Homo sapiens: one gene and its partners. The protein of the gene in region 3 purifies or fractionates together with the protein of the main gene of each other region. This does not show direct contact. Each region holds a gene or a part of one and is shown on either strand. Other genes may lie near its edges.

Evidence for each region.
Region 1: the proteins of HECW2 (region 3) and AMOTL1 purify together in Homo sapiens (affinity purification with western blotting; 2 studies listed by BioGRID, with this or other methods). This does not show direct contact.
Region 2: the proteins of HECW2 (region 3) and LMNB1 purify together in Homo sapiens (affinity purification with western blotting; 2 studies listed by BioGRID, with this or other methods). This does not show direct contact.

What each region holds. Positions count from the first base shown.
Region 1 is NC_000011.10:94,763,448-94,771,381, forward strand, and holds the start of AMOTL1 (angiomotin-like protein 1), read left to right. Parts: upstream 1-4,908; 5' UTR 4,909-5,064; coding exon 5,065-5,113; intron 5,114-7,934. UniProt on the Homo sapiens protein: Inhibits the Wnt/beta-catenin signaling pathway, probably by recruiting CTNNB1 to recycling endosomes and hence preventing its translocation to the nucleus.
Region 2 is NC_000005.10:126,773,004-126,780,161, forward strand, and holds the start of LMNB1 (lamin-B1), read left to right. Parts: upstream 1-4,132; 5' UTR 4,133-4,505; coding exon 4,506-4,864; exon of another isoform or gene 4,865-5,347; coding exon of another isoform or gene 5,348-5,556; intron 5,557-7,158. UniProt on the Homo sapiens protein: Lamins are intermediate filament proteins that assemble into a filamentous meshwork, and which constitute the major components of the nuclear lamina, a fibrous layer on the nucleoplasmic side of the inner nuclear membrane.
Region 3 is NC_000002.12:196,193,557-196,198,568, reverse strand, and holds the end of HECW2 (E3 ubiquitin-protein ligase HECW2), read left to right. Parts: 3' UTR 1-4,497; downstream 4,498-5,012. UniProt on the Homo sapiens protein: E3 ubiquitin-protein ligase that mediates ubiquitination of TP73. Acts to stabilize TP73 and enhance activation of transcription by TP73. Involved in the regulation of mitotic metaphase/anaphase transition.

The DNA.
Region 1 (7,934 bases), on a different chromosome or scaffold from region 3:
AGGCAGGAAAAAACACACTAGAGTTGACCCTTGAACAATGCAGGAGTCACGGGCGCTGACCCCCTCACACAGTTGAAAATCCAAATATAACTTCTGACTCCCCAAAAACTTAACTGCTAATAGCCTACTGTTGACTGGAAGCCTTACCGATAATATAAACAGTTGATTAACACATATTTCATATGTTATATGTATTAATACTGTATTCTTACAATAAATAATAAGCTATAGAAAAGAAAATGTTATTAAGAAAATCACAAGGCAGAGATGATCATCATAAAAGTCTTCATCCTTGTCATCTTCACATTGAGTAGGCTGAGGAGGAGGAAGAAGGGGGTGGGTTGGGCTTGCTGGTTCAGGGTGGCAGAGGTGGAGGAAGATCTGTGTGTAAGTTGACCTGCACTGTTCAAACCTGTGTTGTGCAAGGGTCTGCTGTATTGCCATTGTAAAACAGAGAACTGAAAGAAAAGGTTGGAAAAAAACTTCTCACCTGGTGATTATATAGGGGTTTATTAACTCTGGGGTTGATGTGACCATTTGATGTTTATAAAAAGAAGAAATTAAAAGAAAAGGTGTTTAGAAGCATGGCAGCGTATGCTTTCCTTCCTTGTGTCCATGCCTTTGCTCGAAATATCCTCCTCTCAGCACCTGGATTTCTTGGAACTTGCCCGTTTTTTTCCTGTGCATCATTCCTCTATGCTCCCATAATGCTTTGTGTCTAATCTCTAGTGTGTTCACCATCATTTTTTATCTTTAGCATACTACACTCTGATGTAGTAAATACTTCTGAAAGTGAATTGCAGGAGCACTGACTAACCCCAGTGAGCCAGCTGGAAACCTCAATGTGCTAGGAGTCATTTCGAGTGGATTCTAGGACTGCACCTTTAGAGATTCAGAAATTTGGAGGTGGAACATGAGGAGTTTAAATTTTTACATGCTTTGGTTTCATAAGTTACACTTCAGAAAGTGCTTGAAATTGAACTTAAAAAATATCCTTACTTGTTCTAGGAGCAAAACAAGCATTTTGATCAAAGCAGCCTGGGTGCATCAAATCATTGGTTTGTTCATTCAACAGTCATTAATGGAGAACTACCAGTTGTAGCGATGGTCCCAGGTGAGGCTGTGTGTAGTAGCTGTTCCTTACGTAGTCATGTTCATCCACTCTTCTTTTGCTGTTTGGCTTCTCTGTCTTTGCAAGCCCAAGCCCATTCTTAGGGCCCATTCAGTGAAAGTATTAGCTGGTAAAGACTTTAAATGTTTGTCAAGAAGGGGTGCTGAGAAAAGTGAGAGGAGAAAGACATTTGCATTTTAATAGAGTATTTAAATTCCTTGGTATTTCAAATTACTGGAGAAGAGGAGGGTTTCTAACTTTTACTGAATTCCTAGATGTGCCCAGCACTTGACCTGTATTATCTCATTTAACCCTTGCAATAAGTTTATGAGGCAAATGTTATTATTTTATAGAGGAGGAAGCTGAGGCTCTCCGTGTCTAGAAATAGATAGAACATGGACTAGAAGCAGGTCTTACTGTAAAGGCCCTGCTCATTCTCCTCTATCCAGATGCCTCTGTTACTTCAACATTCTTCCCGCCTCTATGCTTGTTGGGAACAGCTTGGTATCACTGGAACATCCTGGTACTCGTCCTGTTTTGAGTGAAAGACTGCTCTCTGGGCTGCCCCAAAGAGCACTAAAATTGGCCCATCATCTTCTTAGCTTTCTTAGGAATGAGTAAATGACAACTTGGGTCACTTTAGAAAGGATGCTGACCTTTAGGATGAGTGCATAGATCTAAAGAAGGCACAGATGTGGACTGGTTCACTACCTTGCTGTTAGTGAAGGTGTGTTCAATTTTTATTGTAAACATACTTTGTTTCCATTAGACACAAACCAGACATCAGAATCTCCAGCCAAGTGTGCTTACTGAAAGATGTTATTGATAACTTCTTGCTAGTGAAATTCAGAGTCTTTTTTTGCAGGCCTTAGTTCCTGAACAATAGATTCAGGAACTAAGTTAAGGCCTGAAAAGATTGTTTTCTGCATTTGATGTAGAGCTTATTCACAGATAAGGAAATTAAGGCACAGGAGGGAAACATTGGTCTCCAGCAGTGTTTTCTGCCTGTGCTTCCATGTATCTGATTACTGGGTATTAATTTGAGGAGTCTAGGCTAGGTCCACCTGATTGAATCAGAAGATCCTTGAACCCACAAGCTGTGCCTAGCACTTCATTGCAGGTCTAAGAATCTGTAGCATTTGATAGAAGGACCCACTTCTTAAAACTTCCTCTGGCTTCCATGCCTTTACCTTTTCCCAGCTCTTCTACTTCTCCAGATTCTTCCTCTTCTCCCTCCTTCTTTCCCTGTTTTCCAGTTGTGGACATTCTGTTAATGAACTGATCTTCAAAGCTTCATCTCTCCTTTTCTCTACACCTCTGTCCTCCACTTCTCACCCAGTCCCTTGTTCCTTGTTTCCTCTTGCCCAGAGGATAGTAAGTCACTCAGCATCTTTCTCAAACCGTTTCCTCTTCTCAACTGTGCTTCATCTGTCATTGGTCTAATGATCCATTCTTCTAAGACTGCAAGATCTATTCTTCCTATGACTGGGCTCAAAGCCTAGGTTAACTTGATTACTTTGTCCTTTTCCCCAGGATAAACAACGAGTCAATGAGAAGAATAAAATCTTGCTTCAAAGATTTGATACCTTTCTTTATGACATCTGGTATCTCCAAAGATATGGTATCTCTCATTTCCTTTTTATCACCTCTGTCAACCTCACCTATCATTGCTTCCTGCAACTATCCTAGATAGTCTCTTGAAATAATAATAGCAAATGTATATTGAATACTACATGCATTGTGCTGAGTATTTTACATTTGTTATTTTATTCAGTCTTCACAACCACTCTGTGAGATGCTATTTTCTTCATCTTGCCAAAAAGGATACTGAGGTTTAGAGAAGTTAGGCAACTTGCTCAGCGTCACACAGATACTGAATGGTGGAGCTGCAACTCAGCTCATGCCTGTTTTGTTCTAAACTTGATGGTTGTAACTTGGAAATTTTGCTGCTTCCTAGACTATAGGATGGTATCTAGGAGTGGGCAATTAGTAAAGATTAGTTTCCTTTCTTCTTTTTCTATCCATCACTTCTTCCCCAATTTGTATTAAATTCGCGCAAATGTTAGGTGAATCAGTGGTCCCTTCACTGTCCATAAGATAACCACTTCAGCTCCTAATTTGCGATTCAGGGTTCACAATGTGTAATACAAGGCACATTGAGGCAGAGGTTGTTTCTATACCTGGCTTTGCTACTAAACTTGTTCTGTAACATTGGACAAGTCATTCAACAGCTATGCCTGAGCTTCTTCATCCGGCAAGTGAAAGGTTTAGTTGACACTTTCTTAGATTCTTTCCAGGCCTACATTTTTGTGACGTTGTTATTCTGCCTTCCCTTGTTTTCTCCTCGTTTCTGGTAAAAACGCTTTCCTCTATGCCTTCTTCCCAAGCACCCAGACCTTGTCATCTCCCTCTTGGCTTTTGCCTCTGCTTGCCCAGTGCTGCCTTTTCCTCTTTCTGCTGTGTCTGAACTCCACCACCCTCCCAGGCTTTTCCTTCTGTGTAGTCAGTGCCTCTCTCCGCCCTTCCCAGGCATCTGCAGTACTTGGATCTCCTGCTTTGTTGCTTGCCTGTTTTCTGTTCACACATCTTGTCTTCTTAGACAGATAACAGATCCTTGAAGGGCTGGTCAGCTGCTCTAAGTTTCTTTTGTGTGCTAAGTTTCTTTTGTGTGTACCAGGGTAGATGACTTTAAATGGAGTAGGCATTTCATAAATAATTGTTAAATGATTACATTTGGGCTTTATCTTGAGAGCAGAGTTTACTCAGTAGGAGGGCCCATCAGGGGAATCAGAATCAGGACATGCAACCCACCAGAACTGATGAGAGGTAAAACTGCTGGCAGTCTAGTTAGGGAACTGCCACAATCCAGGGAGGAGTCCCTGAAGGCCGGACCTAGATAGCAGGTAAACAGAGGCAGGGAGCACCAGATAAGAGAGGCTTGGTGTGCGCTAACTCTCCCACTAACATCCTGGGCAGCAACTGTACAGTTACCTAGCTTTCTCTTCTCCAAGCAGTAGAGCTGCCCGGAAAAAGCCAGGCAGAAGTGCTATGGGGCAGGCTCGGGCACCCCAGATTAGGGCTCCAGAGAGCCGCCAGTATAAACCAATATAATGAGGTGGATGAGTAGTTCTCAGCACAGCCTGATTTTAAGAGGTGGGGCAACATTTTCCCAGAGTCGCTTACTTTCTTTACCTCTACTCAGGCAGATAACAGCCTGGGGATTTATGGCCAGAGGATGTACGGTTCTGCGAACACATTTAATATCCGAGGCTGTCAGGTCTGTTTTGGCCCTTCTGTTTGTCAACGGAGCACATAGTAGCAGCTTATCGCCCAATCTCAAGTGCGTGATGGAAGCACTGGGGCCTGGGGAATGCTGAGAAAAGTGTGGCCACTTTCTACCTGGAAATTCCACTTAAGAAGAAAAAAAACCAACCTAAGCAAATCTAGACTTTTGGGCAGATCCGGAAACAGAATTTTGGCCGGCATTGGGCTGGTGGGGAAGGAAGACAAAGTGGAGGGAGAACTGGTGAGTCTGAAATTAATCAAAACCCGGCAGGGGACAAAGGAAGGGATGCTGTCGCCCTCCTAAGTCTCAGGGAGACACGTCAGCTTGAGCTCTGGGCAATTTCAGCCTGGCAGTCTCGCGGCCCGGGGAGGGGCGGCGGGTGTCTGCAGACGGGCTCTAGGGCCCAGCGGCCGGGCGCCACGGCGGGGGTGGAGTGTAGGGTTCTAGTGACGAGCCCGGGCGACCCTCCCCGGCCCGCGCGCGGGGAGCGGGGAGCGCGGACGGCGGCGGGAGCGCGCGAGAAGCTCTAGGACCCAGCAGCGGTTGTCGGGTTTGGGGCTGGAGGTGAAGCCCTGTGTGAATGGGGTTGATTGTCCGGCGCCACTTCCCCGCGCTGCCCGGCAGCCGTCTTCCCCAGCCGAGGGACTGAACTAGCCATGATCGCCTCATGTGGAGGGCAAAGTTGCGCCGGGGAACTTGTGAGCCTGCGGTGAAAGGTAACCAGCCCCCACTCGAGGTGCCGGGAGGGCGTCTCCGAGTCTCCCACGCGAAGAACCCAGTCGCCCCGGGCTCCCCGGGCCCCTGCTGCTCACGGAAGGGGGCAGCTTCTGGGGGCCCGGGGCTGAGATCCCAGATTGTTGTTTTTAAGCGGGTTCCCTTGCCCCGCTCCAGGTCCAGTTGCCTGCGGGCCGGGCCTCAGCGTCTTGCCGCCCCGCGACCCACGTTGACTGAAGTTGTGGCCCCGGGGTTTGGGCCCCGGGGTGCTGCGCGCCCGACGCGGGGCTGGCCTTTCCTGAGGGGCGCAGCCATATGGCCAGACACTCCGAGGCGCGCCCGCGCCCGCGCGCGGGTCTCGCGGCGAGGGAGGGGACGGAAGGGGGTGTCCGGTGCAGCTTTCCCCGGCGCGAGACAAAGGCGCGCGCACCGGCCCGCCCGACGGGCTCTGGCGCTGTGGACTGGACCCTTTCTGCCCGCCGGCCAGACCCGGCTCTGGCGGGTGGGGGCGACGAAAGGGTCGCACCCCAGCCCCAGACGCTCGGATCGCGTTAGCTGCTGCTCCTTCTTTGTTCTCTCCCCAGACAAGTTTCTTTGACAAACTGGAGAGTTACATCCAGCTCCCGCTTGCCTGTTAGGGCTGCCTTTACAATAATCTGCTTTCGCGGGGAGAAAATTTAAACTTTCCAAATGGAACTGTTTTTTCTTGGAATGTGACATTTGTGGCAGGAGGGAGAGTGGTACGTTGGCCGATGACAGCCGAGCGGAACGGTGGCCTAGTGCCGGGACAGGGACCGAGCGTGCCCCATAGGCGGCCGGGCTGGAGGACGCGGCGGCAGAGCAGACGAGCCCTGGCGCGCACCTCTAGGGCCTCCGCTACCTGGACTGCGCTCGCGGCGACGTGTCCAAGTTTCCCCCCTCAGAGCCCCAGGCCGAGAATCCCGGGTATCTGCGCAAAGCTCCCGCGCCTCGCCCACCCTACTCTTCCTATCTTTACTGATGACTAGGAAGACTTTCCTTTTCCATTTTTGTTCGAAGATTTTTGCCTTTTTGGCTTCGGTGTTGGTTTCCTGTCTCCGCGTGGCAAATACCTTTTGGCCGGGCTAGCGTGTGGATCACCTGGACTGGGGTTTCAGAGGTGGGCCCTGAGCGTGCGGCCTCCTGAGACGATGCGGTTTGGACCCAACATTTTGTCCCCATGGTCCCTCAGCTCCCTTTCTCTGTGAGGCCTTGGTTTCCCATTTTCTTCTCCTGAGGCATGTTATGAGAACTGAGTTTTTGTACTGCTTATAGAAGGCCTTGGTGGTGGTGGGGTACGTGGTCTCGAGAGCCAGTTGTGATACCTCGAAGATGCTTTCGGCTAACCAAAGCAGTAACGTGCTAACCTGCTCACCATAAACGAATTAAACCAGAATAGAGGGCTATTAATAGCTACAGTTCCAGAAAATTTCCTTCCTTTTCGGGAAGCAAAAAGTCAAGGCTTGAAATATTAAACAATCATGGCTCCCTGCTTCCAAAACTGGCCTATGGGTCACTGCCAAACTGGCTAAGATTTCCCCTGGCTGCATACCACTCCTGGGCCCGGGCAGCTGTGGAAGTCAGACCCAGGTTAACGATTAAGGAGCTCTCTAGATTGCAAGGTCTTAAAGAATCTAGAGCAACTGACATTTACTTCCTAGTAAGGTGCTCTGAGCCTTATAGTGTGTATCTACTTTGAAGGCTCTTTATGAGAATAATGTGGGAACAGTAGTTTAATATACTTTGAACTGTTAGTAAAGGGTGGAAAAGCACTGATTTGACTAGAATGAAGGAAAACACCGATTCGACCAGAATGAAAAGGGTAGGACATAGGTAGAAGGCTTTATACAGGCTCTACTTTTCCTTATGATGGTGGTGGGGGTTGGGGGGAGGGATGAGGATGTTTAGTTCTTGGAGTGCACTTTTGTTTTTCTGTGATGCATTTTTCAAGATAAATAAGGAAACCTTTGTAAACCTGCAGGTGGATAGGAGAGAAGGTGCTGTACCTGTAACGCCCCTTTCCCTCCCCCTTCTTTTTAAAATGCACAGAAGTCTTGGTCTTTCAGGTTCTTTGCAGATGATGGAGGATGTAGCATACTAATTTTCCAAAGGGCATGTGGAGATCAAAGCATTTAAAAATACATCTTTTCACGGAGGCTAATGGAGGATTTTCAGTTTAAATGAGATTTTAAAGTGCTGTCGTTAAGAAAAACACATGAATGCAGAAATGTGAGTGATTTTATGGGAAAGCACTCCGCTGATCAGACTTGAGAGTGTCTGCCCTGGGCCAGTTAGTCTAGAGGCTGTTGTGGGTAGAGCTCAGCTTTTCTGATGTCTACCCCTAAGGAAAAGTGTGGACCCAGGGCCTAGGGAAAAGATGGCTGAACTAATTGAAATGAGCAGTCTGGCTGGTGAGAGTTCTGTTGAAAGGTATAGCCTCTAGGTATCAGTGCTGCATTTCTTCATAGTAATTTGTGAAAATGCTTTGAAAATGATAAAACAAAGACTTTTGAAAAAAATAATTAATGACATGAAATGGGAATTGCTAGTGAAAATTGTAAAAGTTTGATTTTTCAGGCCAATAAATTAAAAAGAAGTAACTTTATAGGACCTGCTAATATTTCTGATATATAAAATTCCCCCAAAGTAACCTTTTCTATTTTCTTTTCTTTTTGGCGGGGTTGGGGGGGGGGTGCGGTGTGTGGCTATCTGCATTTTAAATGCATAAGGAAGCTCAGGTCAGAAAATTCTGCAGTGTTTTGAATAATTTTTCTCCTATTTTTCATTAATTTTGGCAGGTTCTTA
Region 2 (7,158 bases), on a different chromosome or scaffold from region 3:
GCTCACCATAACCTCTGCCTCCCAGGTTCAAGCGATTCTCCTGCCTCAGCCTCCCAAGTAGCTGGGATTACAGGCATGCGCCACCACGCCCAGCTAATTTTGTATTTTTAGTAGAGACGGGGTTTCTCCATGTTGGTCAGGCTGGTCTCGAACTCCCGACCTCAGGTGATCCACCTGCCTTAGCCTCCCAAAGTGCTGGGATTACAGGCATGAGCCACCGAGCCCGGCATGTGTTTTTTTGTTTTGTTTTGTTTTTGAGACGGAGTCTCGCTGTGTCGCCAGGCTGGAGTGCAGTGACGCGATCTCGGCTCACTGCAACCTCTGTCTCCTGGGTTCAAGAGATTCTCCTGCCTCAGCCTCCTGAGTAGCTGGGACTACAGGCGCGCACCACCATGCCCAGTTAACTTTTTTGTATGTTTAGTAGAGACGGGGTTTCGCCGTGTTGGCCAGGATGGTCTCGATCTCTTCACCTCGTCATCCGCCCGCCTCAGCCTCCCAAAGTGCTGAGATTACAGGCGTGAGCCACTGTGCCCGGCTCCATTTCCATTTTCCTTGAAGGAAATCACGGAATAATTTTCTTAAAGTTATACAGCTATCAGTAGCACATCCTCAATTGTCTGACTCCAAGAAAGTTGTTTTATATAATAGGATATGTATAATGTGAGCCTCTTCAAATAATCTGAAAATTGAGGAACTCTATCAATAGAAAGCTTCAGGCCGGGCGTGGTGGCTCACGCCTACGATCCCAGCATTTTGGGAGGCTGAGGCTGGTGGATCACGAGGTCAGGAGTTGGAGACCAGCCCGACCAACATGATGAAACCTCGTCTCTACTAAAAATACAAAATTAGCCCGGTGTGGTGGCGCAGGCCTGTAATCCCAGCTACTCGGGAGGCTGAGGTAGGAGAATCGCTTGAACCCTCCAGGAGGTAGGAGATGGAGGTTGTGGTGAGCTGACATCGCGCCACTGCACTCCAGCTTGGGCAAGAAGAACGAAACTCTGTCTCAAAAAAAAAACAAAAACAAAAACAAAAAACAAAGCTTCATGGGGTTGAGAGCAATAGAGATCATTGCTGGAATCACATATAATCTTAAAACTTAAAAAATGGACAGGAAATAATTTTAAAAGAAAACTGACAATTTTTTTTTTTTTTTTTTGAGACGGAGTCTCGCTCTGTCGCCAGGCTGGAGTGCAGTGGCGCGATCTCGGCTCACGACAACCTCCGCTTCCCGGGTTCAAGCCATTCGCCTGCCTCAGCCTCTCGAGTAGCTGGGACTACAGGCACGTGCCACCACGCCCAGCTATTTTTTTTTTTTTTTTTTTTTGTAGTTTTAGTAGAGACGGGGTTTCACTATGTTGGCCAGGATGGTCTCCATCTCTTGACCTCGTGATCCGCCCGCCTCGGCCTCCCAACCAAGTATTTTTAAAAGACAGGTAAAGGGGAGCAAGGAATGAAAACCATAAAACCATATGGATTGACTATATCACCTGTCGTAGTGGAAAGGGTCTCACAACCAAGTGAGAACAAGCAGATTTACATTCCAATCCTGGTTCCACAGCCTGGGACCCAGCACTCACCTTCTTTTGGTCTAATTTCCTCATCGGTAATTTATTTTATTTAACTTTAAAAAATTTTTTTTATTTTTTTGCAGATAGGGTCTTGCTTTGACGCCTAGGCAGTGTCGCAATCTCAGCTCACTGCAACCTCTGCCTCTGAGGTTCAAGCGATTCTCCTGCCTCCTGCCTCAGCCTCCGGAGTAGCTGGGACTACAGGCGCGCGCCACCACACCCCGCTAATTTTTGTATTTTCAGTAGAGGCGGGGTTTCACTATGTTGACAGGCTGGTCTGGAACTCCCGACCTCAAGTGATCTGCCCACCTCGGCCTCCCAAAGTGCTGGGATTACAGGCTGAGCCACCACACCCGGCCGGTTTTCTCATCAGTAATTTAGATTTTAAAGTTCCCTTTAAGATTACTTGAATACTTAAAGTCTAAGCTTTTCGATTCTTTATTTCTCAATGAGGTTAAGAAAGGAAGTATTTCATGGCCAGGCGCGGTGGCTCACGCCTGTAATTCTAGCACTTTGGGAGGCCGAGGCGGGCGGATTGCCTGAGATCAGGAGTTCGAGGCCAGCCTGGGCAACACGGTGAAGCCCAGTCTCTACTAAAATACAAAAAATTAGCCGGGTATGGTGGCGTTGGTCCCAGCTACTCAGGAGGCTGAGGCAGGAGAATCGCTTGAACCCGGGAGGTGGAAGTTGCAGTGAGCTGAGATTGTGCCATTGCACTCCAGCCTGGGCGACAGAGCAAGACTCCGTCTCCCTGCCATCCTCCCCCCCACCCCCCCACCCCCCAAAAAGCAAGGAAGTATTTTAGGAAACCGGACAGGAAATAGAACCATTAATAAGGAGAATGTCATCATTCACAGAGTGCCAAAAATTCATCTGGGATGAATATGCAGCTCCCAGTGCTCTTCACTAATTCTTATGTACATGACTTGATTAACAGTTAAAGAATATCCTGGTCTCCATTTCTGCCATTTTAAAAGTAAGTAACCATTAATTACAGAAGCGTTCCTAATAGGTGGTAAGGTGGTCATCTAGGGTATAGCTAAGGGCCAGACTCGAGTCAATTAGAATCCTGGGACCTGTCAAACGCAGTCCTGCGGAGCAGCCTTCAGACAGTGAATCTATAAAATGGATGGTTTCTTTCTTTCTTTTTTGAGACGGGGTCTCCCTGTCACCCAGGCTGGAGTGTAATGGTGCCATCTCGGCTCACTGCAACTTCCCCTTTCCGGGTTCAAGGGATTCTCCCACCTCAGCCTTCCAAGTAGCTGAGATTACAGGCACCCGCCATCATGCCCGGCTAATTTTTGTATTTTTGTAGAGACGGGGTTTCACCATGTTGGTCAGGCTGGTCTTGAACTCCTGAGCTCAGGTGATCCTCCCCCACTCGGCCTCCCAAAGTGTTGGGATTATAGGCGTGAGCCACCGCGCCCGCCCGGATGAATTTTCAAATAGAAACAATCCAGTTTCCCACATCACACGGAGATTGTGTGGATGGGTAATCCATGAAAAGCCTGGTGCTGGCACTCAGTCCCAATAAATGTTAGCTAAAAATTAGGAACTTTTCAAAGGGATGAATGTGCTTTCTAATAGAAGTAGCTGCCAGTGACATCTTGGGAGCCTCTTTTTAAAAGCAAAAAATTATTTCATCTTAAATTTTCACAAGTTCAGATTTTTATGTACCTGATTTTAACGGAGTATGAAACAGCTTGCTCTCGTAGTTACTCACCGTCATATGTTAATCGTATCATTTCTGAGCTGTTTTTTGATTTTACAAACCCTTAAATTAAGAAACGGATTAGGAACCGCCCATTAACACTGTTGGCAAATGATTTAAAATCAGGGTTGCTGGTTTTTCTGTGATAATCTATCGGCTTCAAGACGCACAGATCTCACTTTCATGGAAAGAAGTTGCCTGATACAGTTTTCCACCGGAGAGAAAAATAAAGGCTGGTACTTGGAACCTGCAAGCCGTGCATTTGGAACCTCGGACTCAAGTGCCTATTACGTAATTCCACAGCGTCCCGGCCTCCAGGCCGTTTCCCGAGCCCTCCAGCGGAGCGGGGGATAAGGTTACCACGCCCGCGGTGGCCGGGGACACTCTGAGTTTCGCGTGTGGCTTTTAGGGACGTTTATATTTGAATTTCCCTGAACCGCCGAGTGTGGGCGGTGGCGCAGATCCGTCCCGGAAACCTCCGGGCTCCTTCCCGCCTTTCTCAGGCCCGGCCCCTCCAAGGGGTCCCCGCGGGGCGGCGGGAGGGCCCTGGGCCCAGAGCCGCGCGGGTGGGCAGTCCCAGGCGTCCTTCCTTACAGCCCTGAGCCTGGTCCGGGAACCGCCCAGCCGGGAGGGCCGAGCTGACGGTTGCCCAAGGGCCAGATTTTAAATTTACAGGCCCGGCCCCCGAACCGCCGAAGCGCGCTGCCTGCTCCCCATTGGCCCATGGTAGTCACGTGGAGGCGCCGGGGCGTGCCGGCCATGTTGGGGAGTGCGGCGCCGCGGCCCGCGCCACCTCCGCCCCCCGCGGCTTGCCTCCAGCCCGCCCCTCCCGGCCCTCCTCCCCCCGCCCGCCGCTCCGTGCAGCCTGAGAGGAAACAAAGTGCTGCGAGCAGGAGACGGCGGCGGCGCGAACCCTGCTGGGCCTCCAGTCACCCTCGTCTTGCATTTTCCCGCGTGCGTGTGTGAGTGGGTGTGTGTGTTTTCTTACAAAGGGTATTTCGCGATCGATCGATTGATTCGTAGTTCCCCCCCGCGCGCCTTTGCCCTTTGTGCTGTAATCGAGCTCCCGCCATCCCAGGTGCTTCTCCGTTCCTCTAAACGCCAGCGTCTGGACGTGAGCGCAGGTCGCCGGTTTGTGCCTTCGGTCCCCGCTTCGCCCCCTGCCGTCCCCTCCTTATCACGGTCCCGCTCGCGGCCTCGCCGCCCCGCTGTCTCCGCCGCCCGCCATGGCGACTGCGACCCCCGTGCCGCCGCGGATGGGCAGCCGCGCTGGCGGCCCCACCACGCCGCTGAGCCCCACGCGCCTGTCGCGGCTCCAGGAGAAGGAGGAGCTGCGCGAGCTCAATGACCGGCTGGCGGTGTACATCGACAAGGTGCGCAGCCTGGAGACGGAGAACAGCGCGCTGCAGCTGCAGGTGACGGAGCGCGAGGAGGTGCGCGGCCGTGAGCTCACCGGCCTCAAGGCGCTCTACGAGACCGAGCTGGCCGACGCGCGACGCGCGCTCGACGACACGGCCCGCGAGCGCGCCAAGCTGCAGATCGAGCTGGGCAAGTGCAAGGCGGAACACGACCAGCTGCTCCTCAAGTGAGTGCTAGCTGGCGGCCGCGTTAGCGCCAAGGAGGGGCGGGGGCGCAACCGCGGCGACCAGCTCACCGGGTTCTGCCGTGGGGAGGGAGCAGAGGCCAGGATGCACGCGTCCTTCTGAAGGAACAGGGTCTCGGTCTCCGGAAAGGAGAAAGAATCTAGAGTTCATAGCGGAGCAGGGGTCGCGGAGGGGGCTCGAGCTGTAGCGCTGGGGGGCCGTGATGCCCATTTCTAGATTTTGGATACCCGCTGGGACGTGGTAAGTGCGCGCCTGGGACTGCCGAGAAGGAGCTCCCGCTTTCGCACTCGAATCCGGGGAGCCGGCGCGGAGAGGCGGCCCCTCAGGCCCCAGGTGCGGGGAGCTGGAGCGCGAGCGCGCGCTCGCGTGCGCGCCCCAGTTTCCGGCCGGCGCGAGACAAAGCGTCTAGCGGATTTGCAGTGCCGGGATGGGCGGCCGGGGAGGACTGGCAGCCCGCCTCTAGAATGAATGAGCTTCGCGCGGGCAGAGAGAGGAAGGGGAGGGACCTTCCCGCAGCATCCGCGTCTCCTGGGGGTGGGTCCCGCTTTGGCGCGCTCAGTCTTGGCCCTGTGACGTTTTGCGAAGATTCTACGCCTGCTTTAGGCGGGAGAGAGAGGCGGAGCTTGATCCGTGCGCCTCCAGCCAGCCCCGGGCAAGTTAGGTTTGCTAGCTGGTTAGCTTTCTCTGGGGAAATGTGTCCTGTCCCAGCGGGGATGGTGCGGTCCCTCGGGTGGTTCTGCGCAGGGAAGGAAAGCTGGGTTTGTGCATGTCACGGCTACCGTTCTTAGAATTGCGGTTCTCCTACCCCTCAGGCAGCGGCCCTCTGTCCCCAGCTTTTGCCTCCTCGTAGTATAGTCAGGCTTTCGGGTAGAGACTGTGCTTAGTACCCCTTAGTCGACCACTGTGCAGATAGTAGACCAGGGCAGGTGACAGGGTGCTGTGTAAATGCTGAGTGTTTGAGCGAAGGAGAGTTTGTAATTCACCTAAGCGAGTGCGAGTTTTCATTCCAGTGCACAAGGATACATTTGCAGACCTTTGCTGGCCTTATTTTGACTTTCTGATAAGCAAAATGGCCTGTCATCAGTAGGCAACAAGTGTTGATGTCATGCTTTAGAGATTTGCAAAATTTGGGTCTGAAATTCATGGTCGCCATTAGCACTGCCAGCTGAAATTTCTGGAGGTACCTTATTCTCACTTTGACACCCTTTGCCCCTGGATGTCTTTCTGTCTGTATCTGCGTGAATGTCCCTGTCCGAAGTCTCTGAGATTTTGTGTATTTTTACTTATCCCTCCTATCATATGTTTTCGGTTCATAAAAAAGCATGTGCACGTGGTAAGAATAAAATAGTATAGACTGGTTTGTAGCGAAAAACGATAACTGCACTACCTCTTTCCGGAGGCAATCACATTTATCCCTTTTTGTTTTTATTTCTTTGGATATTTAGTTATACAACTCGAAAATAATACTAAGCTTGTATTTCCCTTTCTTGGATTTACTAAGCCTTGGTTTCATCTTTTAAAATGAGCAGTCAGTTAACTCACACTATTATTTCTATGTTCCTCCAAATTTTTTGCCACTGAATTCCTTCAAATCTTAGATATCGTTGCTTGTAAGACTTGCCATTATTATGTGTACCACTAAGAAAATAAAAACATCAGGACCAACTGTGTAGGATCCATCCTGTTGGACCCATCATGATGGGTTTCATAGATATTAAAATGTCAAACAGGGCCGGGCGTGGTGGCTCACGCCTGTAATCCCAGCGCTTTGGGAGGCGAGGTGAGCGGATCACTTGAGGTCAGGAGTTCGAGACCAGCCTGACCAATATGGTGAAACCCCGTCTCTACTAAAAATACAAAAATTGGCCGGACGCGGGGGCTCACGCCTGTAATCCCAGCACTTTGGGAGGCCGAGGCGGGCGGATCACGAGGTCAGGAGATCGAGGCCATCCTGGCTAACAAGGTGAAACCCCGTCTCTACTAAAAATACAAAAAATTATCCAGACGTGGTGGCATGCATCTGTAGTCTCAGCTACTTGGGAGGCTGAGGCAGGAGAATCGCTTGAACCCAGGAGGCGGATATTGCAGTGAGCTGAGATTGCGCCATTGCACCCCAGCCTGGCGACAGAGTGAGACCCCATCTCAAAAAAGAAAAAAAATCCGGGCGTGGTGGCGGGCGTCTGTAATCCCAGCTACTGGGGAGGCTGAGGCAGGAGAATCGCTTGATATCCAGGAGGCAGAGGCTGCAGTGAGCCAGATGGTCCACTGCACTCCA
Region 3 (5,012 bases):
ATTCCCTCTGTGCCAGTTTGATGTTTGTTTGACGATGGAGCTACAAGAGTCTAAATCTGCCTTTGAAAAGCTCAGCTCACAGTGTAGTAGAGTAGACTCCAAGGTTCAAAAAAGTGTTTTTAATAAAATTTGGTAAGTTCTACAATCAAGGAATGAAGAGAGAAGAGAACAGCTTTTTCCATCTGGGAGATTCAATAATGGCTTCATATATAGATGATAGTGTGGCTAAAAAAAATTACATCAATGCTGTTTCTATTGGGAAGCAATGGCAAGTAATAGTATGTCAATACTGGTCAAGTGTTGAAGCCAGGATGCACTTACACAACGAGAGTGTAAAGTGTGTAGGGAGCTGATCTGTGAAGGAGCAACTCAAAGATTTTGAAATTATCAGTGAAATGCCAAAACAGGGAAAGTTTCCCTGTTTCCCTTCATCTATTCTACAATGCACCATTGGTTTTCAGTGTGAAAAATCCCAATCCCTGAGCCCAAACCACTTCTGGGGTCAAAACATTTTTCTTGTGCACAAAATGAATGGATCTTGGTCAAAGAAGTATGGTCACAATTTTCTAGCATATATTGCGTTTATAATTTAGCAGAAATTCTGCAATAAATAAAGGAAAATCTGTTTTACCTGTGCAACAATCAGAAATGGTAAAAATGCATTCAAGTGTTTGAAAGAAATGGTAGAATATGCTTGCATAGTGCTTTATAGTTTCAAAGTGCTGTCAGGTACATCGTCCGTTTAGCTCCTCACGCACTTTGTAGGGTACAAGCATCATGTTCCATCTGGGTTGTGGCTGATTTTCATGGATGGCTTGTGGCATCAGTTTCATTACTTCATAGTCACAATTCTGTGTTTCATCTTGAGAAATGTGGAGACTAATGTTTGTACCAGTATATTCCACATTCAGTGAGGTTTCCAAGATGCTTCCTCCAAACTCTCACTTTCTTAAACAGATACATTTAAAATATGACACCTTCTGAAAAGTCCATAAAGAAATTAGTATATTCATGGAAAAAATTTCCCCGTAGACTTATTTGCATTTCATGACTTGACATGAGAAATTTAAAAAACAGAAGGCAAAATGTGATTGCTTTTGATGGATTTATACAGAATAGTCATTTAATTTTCTCAAGTATTATTTGGAAACAAGATAATGGAAAACATTAATCAGAAGCCTTATTTTATTTTTAAATTTTTAATAGGGATGGATCTAGTAAGCCCTAATAGCTGAGTTCCAGTGATAAAATTCACAAATTTTATTTATGATTGGACCACTTCTAACAAGGCAAATATCTTATAATGAAGATAGGAGTCTGTTCAATTTAACCTTATTCAGGAAACTCCGTATTTATGTGAAATGATGCAATGCCATTATTAAGAGGTATCTGTAACCCTGCATAATAAAAACATGCATAAGAAGAATGTGGTCTAATCTCCAAACTGAGTCTCAGTTTCAGGGCCTTTTGCTTTCTTTGTTTGTTTGTTTGAGACAGTCTGGCTCTGTCATCCAGGCTGGAGTGCAGTGGCACATGAGCTCACTGCAACCTCCACCTCCCAGGCTCAAGCGATCCTCCCACCTCAGCCTCCTGAGTAACTGGGACTACAGGCGCATACCACCACACCTGGCTAATTTTTGTATTTTTGTAGAGACAAGGCCCAGGCACGTCTCAAACTCTTGAGCTCAAGCGATCCGCCCGCCTTGGCCTCCCAAAGTGCTAGGAGTAATTATAGGTGTGAGCCACCATGCTGGCAGTTGTTTTTGTTTATTTGTGATAAGGTCTGGCTGTCACCCATGCTGGAGTGCAGTGGCATGATCTTGGCTCACTGCAACCTCTGCCTTCCAGGCTCAAGCCAGCCTCCCACCTCAGCCTCCGAGTAGCTAGGACTACAGGCATGCACCACCATGCCCAGCTAATTTTTTTATATTTTTTGTAGACACAGGGTTTTGCCACGTTGCCCAGGCTGGTCTTGAACTCCTGAGCTCAAGCAGTCCTCCCACCTTGGCCTCCCGAAGTGCTGGGATTACAGACGTGAGCCTCTGGGCCTTGCTCTGTTTTGTCTGCTTTCTGATTTAGTAGGTGAGGGACAGCACTCTGGACCTTAGCCATTTTACTTCCATCTTACTGCCGTGAGTTTGATGAGAATGTCACTTTTAGACTCTAATTTTCAAAAACTTAGTTTCTTTCCCATTCATTTGTGTTTTCCAAATTAATTTGTTTGTCTAGTATGGATGCAAAGGAATGCTGAAGACATTAAAGCTTTCTGAATTGTGGCTTAAGGCCAGCTACTGCCCACTGAAAGGATGATAAAAATAAAAAAGGAGGAAAGAGGAGCCCAGCAGTTGTGCCACCCCGCAAGAATATAATGCTAATTATTGACCAACTGTCAAGATTCAGAGTGGTAACTGCATTCCGAGGAGCTGTCAGGAAGGATGACCGTGTGTGTGCTGTCCATATCATAGCCATCTGGGTCAGAAGGAGCGAAAGGATGGTTAGGACAGGAGTGTAGTGGAGGGAAAGTTAAAACAACGGTAGATGGATCATCTTAGGGCTTGCTGGTGGGGGTAGGAACATACTTCAATTTGGTTTCAGACTGAGAAGAAGAAAGCTATGCTCCCTGATGAAGGCACAGTTTGATCTACTAGATGGGAAATACCCTCATTTTATAACTTCAGTAATTTAACATTTTCTGTATTGCAAAGTGGAATTTAGTCCCAAAGTATTAAAGCTAACCATAGCTTGATCAGGAGATTTGACAATTTAGCATAAAATTATGTTGTGGATTTTTTTATTTAAGAATTATTGTTACTATTATTGAACACCATGTATGAAATGAAAGAAAGGGTGCTTTTATTTCATTATACTTATTTGGTTTTTTTAGCGGACATCCCTTGACATTAGAATAGCATTTGAGACATTTTCATGATTTCTAAAGATAACTTAAATGCTCTCTGTTAATCTGGAAAGTGAAATCCTAAGAGTGAGGTTGCAAATGGAGACTAAATTAGTGTTTCCAAGTCAGGAAGTTAATCAAGACCGGAAATAGATTTGCTTAGATTTTATCTGCAGAGTCGTTTATTTGGCTTTCGTAATTGAACAGCTCAGCAGAATAAGATGGCCCTAGTTGTATGGTTTCTGGGGAACACAGGAGAATTAAATTTATATATGTGATTTTTATGTGTAGTGCCCTTGGGCAGGTGATATCTTTCTATATGACTTTTAAGATATTACAACCTGAGGAGTGTGGATAGCCGTGTTGTGTGATTCAAACTGAATCAGCTATTACTGATGCAGGTAAGGAACCATCAGTCAACTTCTGGTTACTATCACCTTCATAAAAAAGAATGGATGATGTTCAGGAATTACCTTGGAAGGATTAACCAGGAATTAACACAGAATGGGATGTTCTTTTAGGACCCTAATGCTCTAAAAGATAAAATTACAACCTATTTTTCTTTATATGATAGCATAAGTAAAATTTGGGGCTGTTAATATGTTGGAAAGTGCTTAAAATTACATGTTTTTATAATAGGGATGCAGGCATTCCAAAATAAATGAATAAAAATACATGCATCTCTCTCGCCTCTTACTGAAAGTATTAATCTAATTTTATAGTAATGATTACTTTTTAATATTAAGGCTCTGTAAAAAAATTATTTCTAAGATTTCAGTAGAACACAGGTGGTGTATTTTTTTAAGCTTTTAATTTCTCTTCACCAACCTCAGTCATTACGTTCACCACACAGTGTGTCACAGTTAATAGTGGTATTTCAGTTTTTGCGTTGATTTAAGCTTCATATTTATTTAATGTGACTTTTGATGGAGAATAATAATGGGAGATGCTTGCTGTTAGCATTAAGGTTATACAGCTCTCACTTCACCTTATATGTAATTTTTTTTTCAAAGTAAATAATGCAGATTGTTGACATCCTAGAAATGGTTTCTGGGTGGTATTATATGGGGCCTAGGACTCTGAACTGGGACTAGTTGTTTATTTTCTGGGAAGTCTGTATTCTTATTCTCAACTGAACCCCTGACTCTTTTGTTGTATTTTTTATGATTCCGAAATGCTTTGAGGGAAAGATATTTTAATGTGTACAATTTGTTTTATTTTCATACTGATCTCTATTTTTGTTTAAAACCATGTTGCATCATGAAATCACTTAATCCAAAATAAATCTTCTTTAAAAAAAATAGATTATGACTTTTCTGTAATACTTTTGGGGAGGGAAAACTCAGAAGGGAGGAGAATAGAAGTAGAGATAAAGATTTCATGGCATTAGTTTGCAGCTCTATAAATATTGGAGGTTCTGTTTTCATAGTATTTATAGTATTTTGTTTATTTTTATTTATATTTTTATTATTTATTAATAAAATATTTGTTTATTTTGTTTGGAATCTACTTTGTTTATCCCTACAAGAATATTTTACTGTTTGATGGGCTGTTAATGTTAAAGGAATGAATTATAATACAAATCATAATTTCTTAACTCACATGGGTTGAGACTATTTGTTAAGCCATCTTATTTGAATGTTTAATTTATAAACACATAGGCACACCACTGCCGCCGCCACCACTACCACGCACATCAATTTAATCTAGGGGTCGCGTGTGCATATGCCTACAGGGACCAGATAGGTATTTAACGAGTGAAATTGGCTAGGTGGAAGCAACACACAGTGGTAGGGCTTACATAAAGGGACATTCTAATATTTTGCTCCAGCAGATCCTAGCCACATGAAATTCCAGTCTAGTGTTAAAAGATCTAATATATCAAGGGAAACCCAGAAACCCAAATTTTTGTGTGATATTTCCAGATCTTTTTAGTAGTGGGTGGATCAAACCAAATATAGCTACACATTGATTTGCCCTGCAGGTCACCAGTTTGGAACCCTTGTTTTAATGGATAACATTATCTTTTATATTTAGTTGACTAGTGGTGTAAATTGGCCAGATAAGTAAAATGTTACTAAAACACGGCAGTTAATAAAAAGAGATGGGGAATATA